2 linked regions of the Homo sapiens genome follow. The protein of the gene in region 2 purifies or fractionates together with the protein of the main gene of each other region. This does not show direct contact. Each region holds a gene or a part of one and is shown on either strand. Other genes may lie near its edges.

Region 1 (4,292 bases), on a different chromosome or scaffold from region 2:
CTAGTGGAAGGCCAGAATGCCTGGCATCCTGCCTTATCTTTTAAAAATCTTTCCTTCTTTAAAGATGTTAAAGTTTCTATTATAAATTAATAACTTGCACTGTGGTTTTATTTCTAGATATCTAGATGATCTCAATGAAGGGGTTTATATTCAGCAAACCTTAGAAACTGTGCTTCTCAATGAAGATGGAAAACAACTTCTAGTAAGTAATAATGATTATTTAAAATGAAATTCAAGAATATCAAACATAGTATCACTTTTTTTTCTTTTAAGTCACAAATATATACGAAATACCATTCTTTAAAGAGAAGCGAAATGAGCTTTTAATTATCTTCTAACTGGCAGGTCCATATCTGAGTTTAGAACATAGACTTTGAACAGAATTTAAAACAGTTAAAAGTTATGTGGAAGTTATGAGCCTCCTCGGTGTAAGAATTCTGTCTTCTTTACTTTTTGCATCCCAGCCATCTGTCCTGATACCTAGTACATACTAACCATTTAAGAAATGCTGATTGAATAAGTGAATGATTTTATGATGAAGAGGTATACACAATATTGGGTTGCTATTTTGGTGTCCCAAGCAACATAGCCAAAATAGGTCAACTGAAAAATTATCACTATGAATTAAAATCTGTTTTACATAAACTTTTCAAGGCCCATTCGGCAAGAAGGTAAGAGCTCCTTGGAGGAAACCTACCTTTTCCTTGAAATCTAAAACTTTTTGAAGAAGTGTGAGCAAAGCAATATTTTTCATGATTACCGACTTTACTCCCTAAGAATGTATAATCTAGTGATTTTGGCTTTTGTCCTCTTCTCTTCTTAGTGTGAAGCACTGTACTTATATGGAGTTATGCTACTGGTCATTGACCAAAAGATTGAAGGAGAAGTCAGAGAGAGGATGCTGGTTTCTTACTACCGATACAGGTATTCCTGGGCTAGGACTACACTTCCGAAACGCTGCTGTCGGTAAAATGCAGTGTATGTCCCCATATTCCTTATACTGTGAACAGCAGTAATCCAAGAATAGATAAGAAAGTATACGATTCAGCCGGGCACAGTGGCTAACGCCTGTAATCCCAACACTTTTGGGAGGCCAAGGCAGGCAGATCATCTGAGGTCAGGAGTTTGATACCAGCCTGGCCAACATGGTGAAACCCTGTCTCTACTAAAACTACAAAAATTAGCCAGGCACGGTGGTGGGCGCCTGTAATTCCAGGTACTCAGGAGGCTGAGGCAGGAGAATCGCCTGAACTCGGGAGGCGAAGGTTGCAGTGAGCGAAGATCATGCCACTACACTCCATCCTGGGTGACAGAGCGAGACTATGTCTCAAAAAAAAAAAAAAAAAAAGTAAGATTCTTATGTCTTGTGAGCATATTGTAGGTATATAACAATTACATATTTCATAATGATTATAAATTATATAATCTATGTATTACATATCAAGTATTCTATATATTATAGATTATTAGAAGTATGGATTATGCTGTCCCTAATGATAACTCCAATTTTAAAAAGGAGTCTGAATTGTGAACTTTCTTTACCTTGAGGCTAAATTTCAAAGAATCTTAGAAATCTAATGAAGATTATTTTTGCTTTTGTTGTTTAAGTTTTCAAATATTACTCCTTGGCAGATATAAGGAAATAAGTGTGCTTTCTGTTGTCATTTCAGTTTGATGACTTTGAAAAGTTGTCATTCAGAGTCAGGTTGAAAGTGAATTCTCTCCCATGTTTACATAGAAACAAAAACAAATCAAGCAACAGCACATATCCACAAATCATTTGTTGTGTTTATCTATACAGAACTGTGATTCTTCAGGAAGTAAGGTCTTGAAAACAGGAGCCACCTTAACCAACTTTTTAATTTTAGTGTCTAACGCACAGATTTTCAATTGGTTGAATGAGCTAAAAATGGAATACCAGGTCAATGTCGGAGATAGTCAAGATTCAGAGAAGAAACTGTCAAGAAGGAGGAGTCAGGAGCTTGAGCTAAAGATGTAAAGAGTAGAATTAACATTTTCAAACTTAAAAATTAGGACAAAGTAGACAAGGAGAAGGGGGTTCTTTGGGGACATTATACTTTTCGGCAATACCAGGTACTACTGTGTCCTCAGCAGCAAATTAGTCTTAGGCTCCTCAACTAGCCTTTTCCTTTCAGCTGAAGGGAGTGTTCTAGCAGTGTTCATTCATGTCAGTTTGACCAAGCTGTTTTAACATCCATGTTTTTAAAAATGAGATTTGAATGGCCTTTCCTATATTTCTGAGAGTACCTGGAAAAACAAAAACTATACACAGTGTAAAGAAGAAGAAAAAAATATTGGCTTATGAAGCCCAGTTTTGAAAATATGGCTTTGTCCCCTTTGGTACAACAGCTAATTCATTAGAATGTGAGCATTTATTATTGAAGTGACACTGAACACTTCCAAGTCACAGTCGTGGCAAAAGAGATCCTTACAGCAAATAGCAGGTCATATCCAAGTCTAAGATTCTTTGAATCTAGTTCATTTCTTTCAGAGCTTACTATTCCACCCGGAAAAATCACAGACCTGTTTATTAGATCTCTGTAGAAGGAACAGCTTGCCAAGAAAAAAGTTAGATATATTTTACTTTAAATTGACATAATATTTTTAAATTATTTTTTAATTTGTAAAATGTCAGGTTCACATTCTTTACCCACAATTTTCAAATCCAAAGAGCTCTGAAAAAATATATATACACGAGTATACACACAACACACATGTACATATACATAGTAATTCATTTGGCAGCAAAACCTGATGTAAGCTGAAATCATTTGGAGTCAAAACTTGCCTGGAATAGGTGTGAGGCTATATATAGTCTTCACTTATCTCACTTTTGTAAATATTTATAAATTTTCCTCCAGAATTATTCACTTATGTTGATCATGAGATGCCAATTCAGACCCTGCTGGAGTGTTGTATTGTGTATGATCTATATGCCATATGACTCTTACTATTTGAAAAATGCTATATTCCGAAACAAATCCACTCCTAAGGATTTTGGAAAAGGGATTATGGACCTTTACATAGTATGAATACCCATCTTCTAAACAGGCTTTCAAAAATATAATTTTGAGGCCGGGCACAGTGGCTCACACCTGTAATCCCAGCACTTTGGGAGGACAAGGTGGGTGGATCAGTTGAGGTCAGACATTTAAGACCAGCCTGGGCCAGCATGGTGAAACCCCATCTCTACTAAAATACAAAAATTAGCCAGGCACGGTGGCAAATGCCTGTAGTCCCAGTTACTCAGGAGGCTGAGGCAGGAGAATTGCTTGAACCTGGAGGCAGAGGTTGCAGTGAGCTGAGATCACGCCACTGCACTCCAGCCTGGGTGACAGAGCAAGACACCATCTCAAAAAAAAAAAAAAAAAAAAAAAAGGTTATATATACATACATAGCGAGACTCCATCTCAAAAAAAAATGTATATATATATATATATATATATACACACACACACACATATATATACACATAATTTTGAATCTTGAGGATATATTGAGGATATAGATGGACCTGTGATCATATCTGAAACTATATTGAGTCAAAGTAGAATGGAATTCTACTTTATTGGACTTTTCAGTTTCTAATATGTGTGTTTTGGGTCTTTGTTTCCCATTGTGAATATGACTCAGTGCTGCTCGATCTTCTGCTGATTCAAATATGGACGATATTTGTAAGCTGCTTCGAAGTACAGGTTATTCTAGCCAACCAGGTGCCAAAAGACCATCCAACTATCCCGAGAGCTATTTCCAGAGAGTGCCTATCAACGAATCCTTCATCAGTATGGTCATTGGTCGACTGAGATCTGATGATATTTACAACCAGGTGGGAATTAAATCTATTAAGACCTATTAAGACAGTTTAACAGACTGATTTCACTTCCCTCTTTAATTACTCCTTTCCTTCCTTCTTTCCCAAAAGAGTAAAAGCAGGTAGAACCTTTTAAAACCTTTTGAGCTACACCCCAGGATGATAAAGGAAAGAGGGTTATTAATTTTGCCAGAATCATATATTTCAGGGAGAAGATGGAATTTGAGCTATTGGGAAGAAGATGCATTCTTTTAGTCATTCATTCAAGAAATGGTTGTTGAGTATGTGATACGTGCCCATTCACATGCGCAATGCTGGGGACCCATCACCGAAGAAGACAGGCCATGTCCCTGCCCCTACTGAGCTTGTAGCTTAGGAAAGGCAGATGACAGGATTATAGTAAAGCAAGATGGGTGTTATCTTAGGGTAAGCACAGGGTGCCACTGGAGCATGCAGCAGT
Region 2 (5,863 bases):
CTGGCACAAAAGTGGAATGGAGGGAGAGTTCTGATTATTTTAGGGCTGAATCATGAAGGTCCAGGATTCCTTCTTCACATCTCGCTCTATTAGATCTTGGCCCCTGGGACCAATCTCATGGCTACTTGACTCAACGGGGCTGCCCACCAATCCCAATAAGCTTGAGATCTGGAGAAGGGACCCTTTATGTATGATGTGGGCCTTTCCTGTGATGTCAAATTTTGGTGGTGGTGGTGGGATTACCAAGGAACTTTGTTCCCTTATCTGAAGTGTAGAAATTTAGTGGAGGCAAATTTAAGAGTTAGGAACCTTCCATTCTGTCAACTGTAGGGGAAGGAGGAAACTAATATTGACTTTGTTTTGTTTTTTTTTTGTTTTTCCGGAGACGGTCTTGCTCTGTTACCCAGGCTGGAGTGAAGTGGCATGATCATGGCTCACTGCGGCTTCAACCTCCTGTGCTCAAAAAACTCTCCCACCTCAGCCTCCTGAGTAGTTGGGACCACAGGTGTGAGCCATCATGCCCAGGTATTTTTAAAATTTTTTTGTAGAGACGGGGTCTCACCATATTGCCCAGGCTAAACTCCTGGACTCAAGCCATCCACTCTCCTCAGCCTCCCAAAGTGCTGGAATTACAAAGGTGAGCCATCATGCCTGACCACGGTTTGAGGTGTTTTTGTTTGTCTGTTTTTTTGTTTGTTTTTTGAGACAGAGTCTCACTCTGTCACCCAGGCTGGAGTGTAGTGGTATGATCTTGGCTCACTGCAACCTCCCCCTCCCGGGTTCAAGCAATTCTCCTGCCTCAGCCTCCAGAGTAGCTGGGTCTACAGGCACGTGCCACCATGCCCAGCTAATTTTTATATTTTTAGTAGAGGGGGTTTTGCCATGTTGGCCAGGCTGGTCTCAAATTCCTGACCTCAGGTGATCCACCCACCTTGGCTTCCCAAAGTGCTGGGATTACAAGCGTGAGCGATCATGCCTGACCACCGTTTGAGTTTTTACTATGTGCCAAGCCCCTTCCCAGTCTACTGCATTCCTTGTATTAACCTTTTCATACAAATAATATTATCTCCACTTTGCAAATTGGGGAGTTGGGACTCAGAGAGGTTGGGTAACTTATTGAAGATCACACAGCTGGTAAATGCCAGAGCCATGGAGATGATGGTCCTCCAATTCTAAATTTAACTCTTCACTATCCTGGAATGCTGCCCTAGGAGAGGGCAGTGTGGGTGAAATTTCTAGGTGTATATGGAGATGGGGGGGATGAGGTGGTGCCAGGATTATGGCTTTGGGTTCAGGCAGACTGTGGGCAGATTTAGGGCTGAGAAGTTGATCCCAAGGTTCTCTGGCTTGGCTCTTGGTTTGAAGTTCTTCTAGTCCATATGGTGGGATCAAAAACTCCCAAGTCTAAGGGATGTGGTTGAGCCCGCAGTGGGGGCCAAGAGTAGAGGCTAGGGGTCTCTGGACCATTTTATAGGGTCTCCAGTTCTTAGAGCTTGGGTCTGAGGGTTCTGGGGCCCAAGACCTCCAATTATGGGGTCCAGCTCTTAGGTGTTCAGGCCTGAGGAGCCACGTTCAAGAGTCCCTGTGAAGTTTCAATAGGAAGGGCTTGTTTCAGAAAGTCTCTGGGTTTGCAGGGCTCAGACTGGGGGTCCCATCCTAAAGGCCCTTTTTCTGAGTTTTAGGGTCCTTGGGCCTGGGGGATGAGAGAGATCCAGTTCTGAGGGTTTCAAGAGGTACGGTCCCCGAAAAGCCCAGTTCTGAGAGGCCTGGTTTGGAAATCTCGCCCTGAAGATTCCTGGATCCCAGGGCTCAGGACCAGGCGTCTCTGGATCTGAGGATCCTGGTAGTGATGGCTTAGGGTGGTGTTCCCTGGTCCGAAGCCCGGAGCTAAGGGCACCGGGTCTGCGGTGCGGCTGCGAGGAGCAGGGAAGCGCAGGCCCATGGCAGCCGCGAGGCGGAGGAGCGGGCCAGCGGGCGGCAGTGCTGGCGGCCCCCACACGTTCTGCGCTGGGTCGGCGCTAGGACTCCGGGGCGGCGGCCGTGGGAAGGGCGGCGCTAGGACCCCGCGGGCCCGGCGGCGCGTGGGGCGGCGCGTGTTGACAGCGGCGGCGGTGGAACCGGGCGGGCGGCGGGAGTCGGCGCCTCGGGTTCCTACCTCGCGTCCCTAGGCGGCGGCGGCCGGGCGTCCCGGGATGGCCTTCATGGAGAAGCCGCCAGCCGGCAAGGTGCTGCTGGACGACACGGTGCCGCTGACAGCAGCCATCGAGGCGAGCCAGAGCCTGCAGTCCCACACGGTGCGCGGCCCAGCGGGCGGGCGGGCGGCGTGGGGCGGCCCCGGGCCGCGAGGGGGCTGCGGGCTGCCTGGCGCGGGCCGGGCAGGGTCGTCGGACGGAGACCGGGCCACAGGGTGGGCGGCCCTGGCCGAGAAGGCTGTGGCGCGCCGCTGGGTCTGGGTCAGGGCCCCTGGGGCCCAGGCGAACGCTGAGGCCCGGAGGGGCCAAGGATGGGGACCGCAGCTCCCGGCGCCGCGGGGTGGAAGGAGCTCGGCGGCGACCAGGAAAGCGACTCCGAGTTGGGGGGCGGGGGCGGGGGCTGCGGGATTCCCGGGCTCACCTTGGACTAGGGGAGCAGGAACGAGACCGCTCAGGACCATCCACTTCTGCCCGCCGCCAGCCTTTTCCTTTTTGAGGCCGTGTAATTTCCTCCTTGCAGCTGAGGGTCTGGGTGATGGGGATGAGGGTGTGCCGGGCCAAATGAAGTGTGACTCCAGAGCCTACTTGTTGGGACAGCAGAGTGTAAGTGGCTGGGGTCTGCAGCCCCGTTTCCAGGTCAGCCGCTTGGCCCTGGTCCCGGGAAGTGGTGGGGGCGGCAGTCGGGGCGCTGTTAAGCAGGTGTATGAATGTGCTTCTCTAACTTGCTCTTTAGTGGGCAGTGGTAGCATTCATTTGAGTTTAAAATCCACTCGAGTAGCATAAAGGAGTAATAGGTCCTCATAGTAAACATTGGCAGGGTTCATTTCTGCTACATATACGGTCTTTTATGGGGCTTTAAAACCGTGGTTGTTTTCATTTGCTTGTACCTTTTTTTTTTTTTGAAAGGCCCACTATGCATTATAATTTCCAAGCAATAAATCTAGGAACCAGCAAGAAACCTGGAGCTATCAGCTAGTGGGACTTTTTTGGAAAAGTAATGAGTGAGGAGAGAGATTCCTTCAATTGTGATGTTTTGTCAGTCCACCGAATCAGATTCAGACTCAGAGGCTTGTTTGTTTACCATTGCAGTGTGTTTGGGGGGTCATCATCTGGAGGCTAAAGCTCACAATAGCCTTCTGTTTCTCTTTTCGTTCAAGCTCTTCTGATGACTTCAAAGAGACCTTTTATTCTGTTGTATTAAAGTGAGACTTTTTTGAACCTCAGTTTCCTCTTCTGACAGCCGTGCTTTGTAGGGCTTGAATTGTTCAAAGCATTCACTTCCAGTTAAGAAAATTATTATCTTTTTAAAAAGGGCTATTTATTTCACGCTGTGTGTCTTTAATCCTATTCTGTAGACATGTGAGAAGGCACATACAGGACAGAATTTGTTAAACTTGCTATCATTTGTGCCTAAAGGGAGTATGGCATAAGGGTTGAAATTTAGGATAGGGAGTCAAGAGTAATTCAGCTATTAAATTTGATTTTTGACTTGACTATTGGCAAGTAAGTCTTATAACCTTTCAGGGAATAGTGTCGAGTCCTTTAGGTTTATTTTGTATTGAAAATAAAGAGATAGATGTTTCTAAATACTCACAAATTACTTTCCCTAGGAAGCATTCATGATTTCTACAGCCCCAGCCCATGTGCCTACCCACACCTTAATCTTGATTAGTTTGTCCTGTAATTACTTCTTTACTTTTTGTCTCCACCAGGCTACAAGAGGAGGGGCACTTCTTCCTCACTTTTGAGTCTCATTCCCTGGTTTTTGATAGGATTTCAAATGTGTTTATCAAATGACTAAATAATCCAACTTCAACCTTACTATGCCTCTTTTTCTGTTTATGTAAAATGGTAATTGTAAACATTGAAAAAATAACTTAGAGATCAGTGCTTTAGCTAGGTGGCGAAAGATGTAATAGGATTCTGTTTTTATTGTAAGGGTGTGTGTGTGTGTGTGTGTGTGTGTGTGTCTGTGTGTGTGTGTGTGTGTGTGTGTGTAGAGACAGCGTCTCACCATGTTGTCCAGGCTGGTGTGTGTGTGTGTGTGTGTGTGTGTGTGTGTGTGTGTGTGGAGACAGCGTCTCACCATGTTGTCCAGGCTGGTCTGGAACGCCTGGGCTCAGGCCGTTCTCCTGCCTCAGCCCCACAAAGTGCTGGTATACAGATGTGAGCCACCACACCTGGCCCTGCAGATCTTTTCTTTAAAAAATAAAATAATTTAGGGTAGAAAATGGCAGTTCTTGTAGGGATGACTGACCACAAAAGACAGTGACTCACAGGAGACCCATAGAGGCAGATGTGGTAGAGTAAAAAACTGTAGCATTGTCTTGCGTAATTTTTTGACTGTTCTGTGTTCTTGTCATTTTAGCTGTAAAGTTTGACTGAGAAATGTTGCATCAGCCCTGAAGTTTATTGAGAAAATCTTACGCTGATGCAAACTTTTTGGACTGTTAGTGTCTTATGAGTAAGTCTTTTTTAAAACAGGAACTGTTGGAAATTATTTTGGAAAGAAGTAGTTGTTAAGAGGGGTATGTAGAAGAGAAAGGCACTGTTTTTTCTTGGGGAGATTGAAGTTGGCTTTCCAGCTTGGTAGCTGAAGGGAGATGGTGTTCCAGAAGTCAGAGCTCTACTCTCGCTTTGAAATGCTGAATCTCTAGGAAGTTACTCCTTGGCTGTAGACAGAAACATACGGAGTTAGAGACAGACTTGGGGTTGGAAGAGGCAAGACCTTAATACAGGTCTGAGCTGATACTTGCTAGTCATGTGATATAGGCTGGGCAAGTCACTTAAACCTTTTTGAAGTTTAGTTTTGTCATCTGTAAATGGGAGTAATAAATGCCTGCCCTGCCTGCCTCCCAAGGTTGTTAGGAAGATCAAATGAAATCATCTTGATGAAGTATTTGTAAAATGTATTCCTTCCTCCCTCCATCTCTTCACTCCCTGACAACATTTGTGCAAAGCGTTAAACACATTAGAGGGCGTTATTGCAAGCAAGCTCATTTCTGTCCATAGTTCCTTTCATTTATCAAGTTTGTTTAACCTTGGGAAACATATATATATATATATATATATATATATATATATTTTTTTTTTTTTTTTTTAATACCAATGGGGTTCTTGCTGTGTTGCCCAGGCTGGTCTTGAACTCCTGACCTCAAGTGATCCTCCCACCTCAGCCTCCCAAAGTGCTGGGATTATAGGTGTGAACCACTGCACCCAGCTGGGAAACCACCTATAACAGAAATGATTTAGGATTTGTGAACTTGGTAGGGAAAAATTCTGTGGTTTGGAAAACTGAGTCACCAGAAGGATGAAGGGAACACAAGGTCACCACCAGAAAGGCATATTTGGATGAGCAACTGGCAGAAAGGACATGTGTTGGTAGGTGATTCTGTGCTTTGCTGATGCTGATGCATCATTTTTATGGAGCAAAATGAATTTAGCATTAAGAGCTAGACCAGCCCTCTGCTGCAAGGAAATGAAGCTTCTATAAAATCAGAAAGGCTAGTATTTAGGGGGAGGATGCTTTCAGGTTAGGTTTGGAGGAAGAAGGAAGATTTTCCAGACAAAAGGAATTCTGGTGAAAAGCCACACAGGTGAGTTGTGAGAAAATTTAGGAGGACCAAGAGAGGACAAGGGAAAGGTAAGTTCTTGGCTATATAAAAGGGAAA

What was found.
Region 1: the proteins of PXK (region 2) and WASHC5 purify together in Homo sapiens (affinity purification with mass spectrometry; one large-scale study listed by BioGRID and IntAct). This does not show direct contact.

The regions. Positions count from the first base shown.
Region 1 is NC_000008.11:125,078,293-125,082,584, reverse strand, and holds part of WASHC5 (WASH complex subunit 5), read left to right. Parts: intron 1-117; coding exon 118-202; intron 203-823; coding exon 824-924; intron 925-3,654; coding exon 3,655-3,847; intron 3,848-4,292. UniProt on the Homo sapiens protein: Acts as a component of the WASH core complex that functions as a nucleation-promoting factor (NPF) at the surface of endosomes, where it recruits and activates the Arp2/3 complex to induce actin polymerization, playing a key role in the fission of tubules that serve as transport intermediates during endosome sorting.
Region 2 is NC_000003.12:58,330,797-58,336,659, forward strand, and holds the start of PXK (PX domain-containing protein kinase-like protein), read left to right. Parts: upstream 1-2,095; 5' UTR 2,096-2,192; coding exon 2,193-2,294; intron 2,295-2,509; exon of another isoform or gene 2,510-2,753; coding exon of another isoform or gene 2,754-2,795; intron 2,796-5,863. UniProt on the Homo sapiens protein: Binds to and modulates brain Na,K-ATPase subunits ATP1B1 and ATP1B3 and may thereby participate in the regulation of electrical excitability and synaptic transmission. May not display kinase activity.